3 separate regions of the Homo sapiens genome follow, and regions 1 and 2 are each linked to region 3. Evidence: fine-mapped expression QTL. A gene starts in region 3. Each other region holds a variant in brackets. All regions are shown on one strand. Distances are between the middles of the regions. Region 1 overlaps MAGEA1 (MAGE family member A1). Region 2 has its middle 12 kb from the start of MAGEA1. Region 3 holds the start of PNMA6A (PNMA family member 6A).

Region 1 (2,724 bases), 110 kb after region 3:
CACCCCATTCGCATTCCCATTCCCCACCCAACCCCCATCTCCTCAGCTACACCTCCACCCCCATCCCTACTCCTACTCCGTCACCTGACCACCACCCTCCAGCCCCAGCACCAGCCCCAACCCTTCTGCCACCTCACCCTCACTGCCCCCAACCCCACCCTCATCTCTCTCATGTGCCCCACTCCCATCGCCTCCCCCATTCTGGCAGAATCCGGTTTGCCCCTGCTCTCAACCCAGGGAAGCCCTGGATGGCCCGATGTGAAACCACTGACTTGAACCTCACAGATCTGAGAGAAGCCAGGTTCATTTAATGGTTCTGAGGGGCGGCTTGAGATCCACTGAGGGGAGTGGTTTTAGGCTCTGTGAGGAGGCAAGGTGAGATGCTGAGGGAGGACTGAGGAGGCACACACCCCAGGTAGATGGCCCCAAAATGATCCAGTACCACCCCTGCTGCCAGCCCTGGACCACCCGGCCAGGACAGATGTCTCAGCTGGACCACCCCCCGTCCCGTCCCACTGCCACTTAACCCACAGGGCAATCTGTAGTCATAGCTTATGTGACCGGGGCAGGGTTGGTCAGGAGAGGGCAGGGCCCAGGCATCAAGGTCCAGGCATCCGCCCGGCATTAGGGTCAGGACCCTGGGAGGGAACTGAGGGTTCCCCACCCACACCTGTCTCCTCATCTCCACCGCCACCCCACTCACATTCCCATACCTACCCCCTACCCCCAACCTCATCTTGTCAGAATCCCTGCTGTCAACCCACGGAAGCCACGGGAATGGCGGCCAGGCACTCGGATCTTGACGTCCCCATCCAGGGCTGATGGAGGGAAGGGGCTTGAACAGGGCCTCAGGGGAGCAGAGGGAGGGCCCTACTGCGAGATGAGGGAGGCCTCAGAGGACCCAGCACCCTAGGACACCGCACCCCTGTCTGAGACTGAGGCTGCCACTTCTGGCCTCAAGAATCAGAATGATGGGGACTCAGATTAGCATGGGGGTGGGACCCAGGCCTGCAAGGCTTACGCGGAGGAAGAGGAGGGAGGACTCAGGGGACCTTGGAATCCAGATCAGTGTGGACCTCGGCCCTGAGAGGTCCAGGGCACGGTGGCCACATATGGCCCATATTTCCTGCATCTTTGAGGTGACAGGACAGAGCTGTGGTCTGAGAAGTGGGGCCTCAGGTCAACAGAGGGAGGAGTTCCAGGATCCATATGGCCCAAGATGTGCCCCCTTCATGAGGACTGGGGATATCCCCGGCTCAGAAAGAAGGGACTCCACACAGTCTGGCTGTCCCCTTTTAGTAGCTCTAGGGGGACCAGATCAGGGATGGCGGTATGTTCCATTCTCACTTGTACCACAGGCAGGAAGTTGGGGGGCCCTCAGGGAGATGGGGTCTTGGGGTAAAGGGGGGATGTCTACTCATGTCAGGGAATTGGGGGTTGAGGAAGCACAGGCGCTGGCAGGAATAAAGATGAGTGAGACAGACAAGGCTATTGGAATCCTCACCCCAGAACCAAAGGGGTCAGCCCTGGACACCTCACCCAGGATGTGGCTTCTTTTCACTCCTGTTTCCAGATCTGGGGCAGGTGAGGACCTCATTCTCAGAGGGTGACTCAGGTCAACGTAGGGACCCCCATCTGGTCTAAAGACAGAGCGGTCCCAGGATCTGCCATGCGTTCGGGTGAGGAACATGAGGGAGGACTGAGGGTACCCCAGGACCAGAACACTGAGGGAGACTGCACAGAAATCAGCCCTGCCCCTGCTGTCACCCCAGAGAGCATG[G/A]GCTGGGCCGTCTGCCGAGGTCCTTCCGTTATCCTGGGATCATTGATGTCAGGGACGGGGAGGCCTTGGTCTGAGAAGGCTGCGCTCAGGTCAGTAGAGGGAGCGTCCCAGGCCCTGCCAGGAGTCAAGGTGAGGACCAAGCGGGCACCTCACCCAGGACACATTAATTCCAATGAATTTTGATATCTCTTGCTGCCCTTCCCCAAGGACCTAGGCACGTGTGGCCAGATGTTTGTCCCCTCCTGTCCTTCCATTCCTTATCATGGATGTGAACTCTTGATTTGGATTTCTCAGACCAGCAAAAGGGCAGGATCCAGGCCCTGCCAGGAAAAATATAAGGGCCCTGCGTGAGAACAGAGGGGGTCATCCACTGCATGAGAGTGGGGATGTCACAGAGTCCAGCCCACCCTCCTGGTAGCACTGAGAAGCCAGGGCTGTGCTTGCGGTCTGCACCCTGAGGGCCCGTGGATTCCTCTTCCTGGAGCTCCAGGAACCAGGCAGTGAGGCCTTGGTCTGAGACAGTATCCTCAGGTCACAGAGCAGAGGATGCACAGGGTGTGCCAGCAGTGAATGTTTGCCCTGAATGCACACCAAGGGCCCCACCTGCCACAGGACACATAGGACTCCACAGAGTCTGGCCTCACCTCCCTACTGTCAGTCCTGTAGAATCGACCTCTGCTGGCCGGCTGTACCCTGAGTACCCTCTCACTTCCTCCTTCAGGTTTTCAGGGGACAGGCCAACCCAGAGGACAGGATTCCCTGGAGGCCACAGAGGAGCACCAAGGAGAAGATCTGTAAGTAGGCCTTTGTTAGAGTCTCCAAGGTTCAGTTCTCAGCTGAGGCCTCTCACACACTCCCTCTCTCCCCAGGCCTGTGGGTCTTCATTGCCCAGCTCCTGCCCACACTCCTGCCTGCTGCCCTGACGAGAGTCATCATGTCTCTTG
Region 2 (2,758 bases), 95 kb after region 3:
CAACCATAATGCATGCCCAAAACTTCATTAGCAATTTTAATTTCGCCCGGGTCCTGTGGTCCTGTGGTCCTGTGATCTCACCCTGCCTCCATTTGCCTTGTGATATTCTATTACCTTGTGAAGCACGTGATCTCTGTGACCCACACCCTATTGGTACTCCCTCCCCTTTTGAAAATCACTAATAAAAACTTGCTGGTTTTGCAGCTTGTGGGGCATCACGGAACCTGCTGACATGTGATGTCTCCCCCGGACACCCAACTTTAAAATTTCTCTCTTTGGACTCTGTCCCTTCATTTCTCAGACTGGCTGACACTTAGGGAAAACAGAAAACAGAAAATTTTTGCCTGATATCTGGCTGAATTTCGCCCGACATCTGGCTGAATTTCCCCTGATATCCTGGGGTTTCAGTTTTCCCCTGTCTGAAATCACTGCTTTCAAGCTGTCAAATTTCAGTGAATACATTTGCTCCACTGGATATCACATGAGTATTCCATCAACTGTGAGGTCATGACCCTCTCAGTAGGTGTAGTACCCATACTCAGTAGGTGTAGTACCGGGGCTTGGATTTTAGCAGTGTAGGGAGGATGAGGCAGATTTTCTCATGCCAGAAATCACGCAGGATGTTTACATGTAGGAAACTACAACCTAACACTGATGAGTTCATGGAGCAGGGTGGGATTGTGTAGGATAGTTCATCACTGTGCCTGAGGTTCTCTCCAGTGTAACAAAGTTTTTTCAAAAGACCTTACAATTGGAAAGGAACAAATACAAAAAAAACCTCCTCATTTACATAATATAAGAGTATATGCAGACAATCCTATCAATGTAAAAATGCTTCTAGAATGAATACAACTTTAGCAATGTTGGTGGATTTAAGACCATTATACTTGTATTTTAATAATAGCAATAAACAATTGGCAATTGAGACAAACATAGTACAATTTAAATTAACATTAGAAAATATAAATTGAAAGGGATAAATATGACAGAAGATGTAGAAGATCTGTCCATTGAAAACTATAAAGCATTACAAAGATAAATTCAATGAGGATATATGTAAATAGAGATACAAACTTTATTCATGAGTCAGAAAACTGAATATTAAGATGTCATTTATTTTTCCTCAACTTTTTTGATAGATTCAATGCAATCAAAATCCAAATTCCAGATTTTTTAAAATAGAAATTGGGAGGCTAGCACTAACATTGATATAGAAATGTAAAGGTCCTAGAATAGCCAAAGAAAACATTAAAAAATAAACATTAGACCTAAAACCATAAAAACCCTAGAAGAAAACCTAGGCATTACCATTCAGGACATAGGCATGGGCAAGGACTTCATGTCTAAAACACCAAAAGCAATGGCAACAAAAGCCAAAATTGACAAATGGGATCTAATTAAACTAAAGAGCTTCTGCACAGCAAAAGAAACTACCATCAGAGTGAACAAGCAACCCACAAAATGGGAGAAAATTTTT[G/T]CAACCTACTCATCTGACAAAGGGCTAATATCCAGAATCTACAATGAACTCAAACAAATTTACAAGAAAAAAACAAACAACCCCATCAAAAAGTGGGCAAAGGACATGAACAGACACTTCTCAAAAGAAGACATTTATGCAGCCAAAAAACATATGAAAAAATGCTCACCATCACTGGCCATCAGAGAAATGCAAATCAAAACCACAATGAGATACCATTTCACACCAGTTAGAATGGCAATCATTAAAAAGTCAGGAAACAACAGGTGCTGGAGAGGATGTGGAGAAATAGGAACACTTTTACACTGTTGGTGGGACTGTAAACTAGTTCAACCATTGTGGAAGTCAGTGTGGCTATTCCTCAGGGATCTAGAACTAGAAATATCATTTGACCCAGCCATCCCATTACTGGGTATATACCCAAAGGACTATAAATCATGCTGCTATAAAGACACATGCACATGTATGTTTATTGCGGCATTATTCACAATAGCAAAGACTTGGAACCAACCCAAATGTCCAACAGTGGATAGACTGGATTAAGAAAATGTGGCACATATACACCATGGAATACTATGCAGCCATAAAAAATGATGAGTTCATGTCCTTTGTAGGGACATGGATGAAATTGGAAATCATCGTTCTCAGTAAACTATCGCAAGAACAAAAAACCAAACACCGCATATTCTCACTCATAGGTGGGAATTGAACAATGAGAACACATGGACACAGGAAGGGGAACATCACACTCTGGGGACTGTTGTGGGGTGGGGGAAGCGGGGAGGGATAGCATTGGGAGATATACCTAATGCTAGATGACGAGTTAGTGGGTGCAGCGCACCAGCATGGCACATGTATACATGTGTAACTAACCTGCACATTGTGCACATGTACCCTAAAACTTAAAGTATAATAATAATAAATAAATAAATAAATAAATAAATAAATAAATAAATAAAAAATAGAACAAATGTGGTGGGGTTACCCTACTTCATTTCAAGGCTTATAAACTAACAATGATCAGTGTAGTCGGAATTATCATTATTATAAGAATATATCAATGGAAGGGAATAAAGCCCAATAGTATATACACATGTATATGCATATATAGACAACTAATTATTAATAAAGATGCAAATGAAGGTGAGAGGAGAGAAATGGCAGTGTATTCAACAATTGGGTCTGGAACAATTGGATAGCTCATATGGTTTGGCTCTGTGTCCCCACCCAAATCTCACCTGGAATTATAATTCCCATAATCTCCGTATGTCAAGGGCAGGA
Region 3 (2,758 bases):
CACGCACCGGAGGTCACAGATGAGCAATGCTTGGTTGTGGCGTTGATAGGCACAGCCCAAGTCCCAGCAGAGCCACTGCCTGCTGTGCACCCCAGAGTCTTTCTGGCTGACGGTGGTGGCTCAGACAGGCATGCGGGATGCCACTGGCAGCAGTGTCTGCAACAGCCAAACAGTGGGAAGGACCGGAATGTCCATCCCCAGGGTCATAGACAAATACTCTGGGGCTGTGATTCAGCAAGGAGCTTGGGCGAGCTGGACGCTTGGGGGAAACCTTGGCCAGCAAGTTGCCAAACAGGAGGTCAGGCAAGGAAAGAGAAGGGGATGAGGGAACGACACCCAGAGGTGTGACCCCGTGGGAACCTGTTTGCCACCTGCCTGGTGGAGATGCTGTTCACATGGCCCCAGCCTCCCATGATGGGTCAGGTGCAGGGTGGTCAGATCCACGGGCGCAGAATCTCTGTTTTGAGCGGAGGCTGCTCTGCCCTGGCGCAGTGTCTAGCCCCGGCAACAGAGGACTGGGGAAGGACCTATGGAAGGCTGACTCAGGCCCTGACAGACGGAGGTCTCCAGGGAGGTACGACACCCATGCTGCCCTCAGGGCCAAGAGAGCAATGTCCCAGAGCCCATCAGGCTGGTGAGGGCACAGGGGGCAGGGGACAAATTGAGTAGCCCACTCCGCGCGGACTACCTTTCCAGGCACACACTCAGGCAGAGACCCAGACTCGGGACTTGCGGCTGCAAAACGGACGAGGCCCGGGCATACTTGGGTGCTGGGTCACCCTCCTAGGTGCTGGCTCCTGGCACCAGGGCAGCAAAGTGCTTCGGCCGGAGGGCTGCGGGTCCCTGAAGCCGGATGGGCAGCGGGGAGATGGCAGACCCTCCGTAGGATGGTGTGCGTGAGCTGCGTGAGCGCCTGGGGCATCTCCTCCACGGAATGGCACCCGCACCAGGTGCCCCTGGCCTCGCCTGGCCTTGCCAGCCAGAGGACCAGTCCTGGACGGGGAGGGGGAGGACAAGAGCAGGTGCACAGGCCCCAGAACCCGGCTCCCTGACCCTGGCCAGAACGCAGAGCTGCCGGACGCACCTCAGACCACTCCCTGGCCCTCTGGTGGGCACGCCGGGGTGCACACCCGTCGCCCCGCTGGCGCCTGCCTCCGGGGCACGTGCGGGAGGGGCAGAGGCCTGGACCAGGAACCGCTGTGGTGAGAGCCAAAGGCGCTGGGACCTGCGGCCCACAGACCTTTGGACACCCCGGTGGGGGTGGGGGTGGGCTGGCGCCTGTGTTCCCGGGACCCGCGGCGCGAGGGGAGTGGGGGTGGGGCTAGGGGATAGGAGCAGGTGACGTCACCCGGGGTCCTGGGGCGCTCGGGAAGGCGGCGAGAGCCAGGCCACGTGACCCGCCCGCGGCAACGGCCCTGCGCTCTCCCGGGCCGGCGACGCGGAGGGGTCCGCGCTGCACCGCCGCCGCACCCCGGCCGCGTGACCGCACTGCAGAGAGCGGCTGCGAGCAGGCGCCTGCGCACCGGCCCAAACGCCGAGCGAGCGAGGGAGAGGCACAGTCAGAGGGAACGCCCGCGCGGGGAGCCAGGGGCGCCCGACCCCGCCGCCGCCGCAGCGGCGCGCAGCCCCCGACGCGCCCTGTGGGGACCCGGACCAGGAGGGACCCTGCCCCGGGAAAAGGTATCAGACCCACCCGGGGAGGGGGACGCTGGGTCCCGGGAGACTCCGCCGCCCCTCGCCTGTCCGCCCTAACAGAACTGAAGCAGCCTGCGGGGCAGCGGTCCGGGGTCCGGGGTCCGGGGTCCGGGGTCCGGGGGCGGCGCGGGGATGAGGCCAAGACCCGCAGGGACCACCCCCCCGGGGGGGCGGGGCGGGACAGGGGCGGGGCCTGGCTGCAGAGGCGCGGCCAGGGGAGGAGGGCGGCTGGGGGTGGGAGTGGACGTGGACGTGGACGTGGGCGTGGGGAGGGGTGGGCATTAACCTCGCTCTCGCCCGCTCGCATTCACAGGCTGTGGAGACCTGGGCTCCGACCCCAGTTCATCCCCCCACACCCCCGCCGCCCCGTGCCACCCTGGTCCGCGCTGGGAACCCTATCCTGCCCCTCGTGTCAGCCCGGCACTGGCCAGAATCGCGGGCATGGCGGTGACCATGCTGCAGGACTGGTGCCGGTGGATGGGGGTCAACGCTCGCAGGGGCCTGCTCATCCTGGGCATCCCGGAGGACTGTGATGATGCCGAATTCCAAGAGTCCCTCGAGGCTGCCCTGAGGCCTATGGGACACTTTACAGTGCTAGGCAAAGCGTTTCGAGAGGAGGATAATGCCACCGCGGCCCTGGTCGAGCTCGACCGGGAAGTCAACTATGCTTTGGTCCCCAGGGAAATCCCCGGCACTGGGGGCCCGTGGAACGTGGTCTTTGTGCCCCGTTGCTCAGGCGAGGAGTTTCTCGGTCTCGGTCGCGTGTTCCACTTCCCGGAGCAAGAGGGGCAGATGGTGGAGAGCGTGGCCGGCGCCCTGGGTGTGGGGCTGCGCAGGGTGTGCTGGCTGCGATCCATCGGTCAGGCGGTCCAGCCCTGGGTGGAGGCCGTGAGGTGCCAGAGCCTGGGCGTGTTTTCCGGGAGGGACCAGCCAGCCCCAGGGGAGGAGTCCTTTGAGGTCTGGCTAGACCACACCACCGAAATGCTGCATGTGTGGCAGGGGGTCTCGGAAAGGGAGAGGAGGAGGAGGCTGCTGGAAGGCTTGCGTGGGACCGCCCTGCAGC

The links. PIP is the estimated chance that this variant, and not a neighbour inherited with it, causes the effect.
Region 1: its variant is the best candidate, but not a certain one, in a credible set for the expression of PNMA6A in whole blood (TOPMed, PIP 0.81).
Region 2: its variant is the best candidate, but not a certain one, in a credible set for the expression of PNMA6A in tibial artery (GTEx, PIP 0.59).

Annotation. Positions count from the first base shown.
Region 1 is chrX:153,179,676-153,182,399 of GRCh38, forward strand. MAGEA1 (MAGE family member A1) reads left to right here. Exons shown (of 3, transcript NM_004988.5): 2 at 2,502-2,574; 3 at 2,650-2,724. The coding sequence starts at 2,715. Among named protein-coding and RNA genes, the nearest start is that of MAGEA1, 1.8 kb to the left of the region's middle. The variant G/A (reference allele first, on the strand shown) is at 1,781.
Region 2 is chrX:153,166,200-153,168,957 of GRCh38, forward strand. No RefSeq gene overlaps it. Among named protein-coding and RNA genes, the nearest start is that of MAGEA1, 12 kb to the right of the region's middle. The variant G/T (reference allele first, on the strand shown) is at 1,478.
Region 3 is chrX:153,070,927-153,073,684 of GRCh38, forward strand. PNMA6A (PNMA family member 6A) reads left to right here and starts at 1,528. Exons shown (of 2, transcript NM_032882.6): 1 at 1,528-1,680; 2 at 2,009-2,758. The coding sequence starts at 2,137.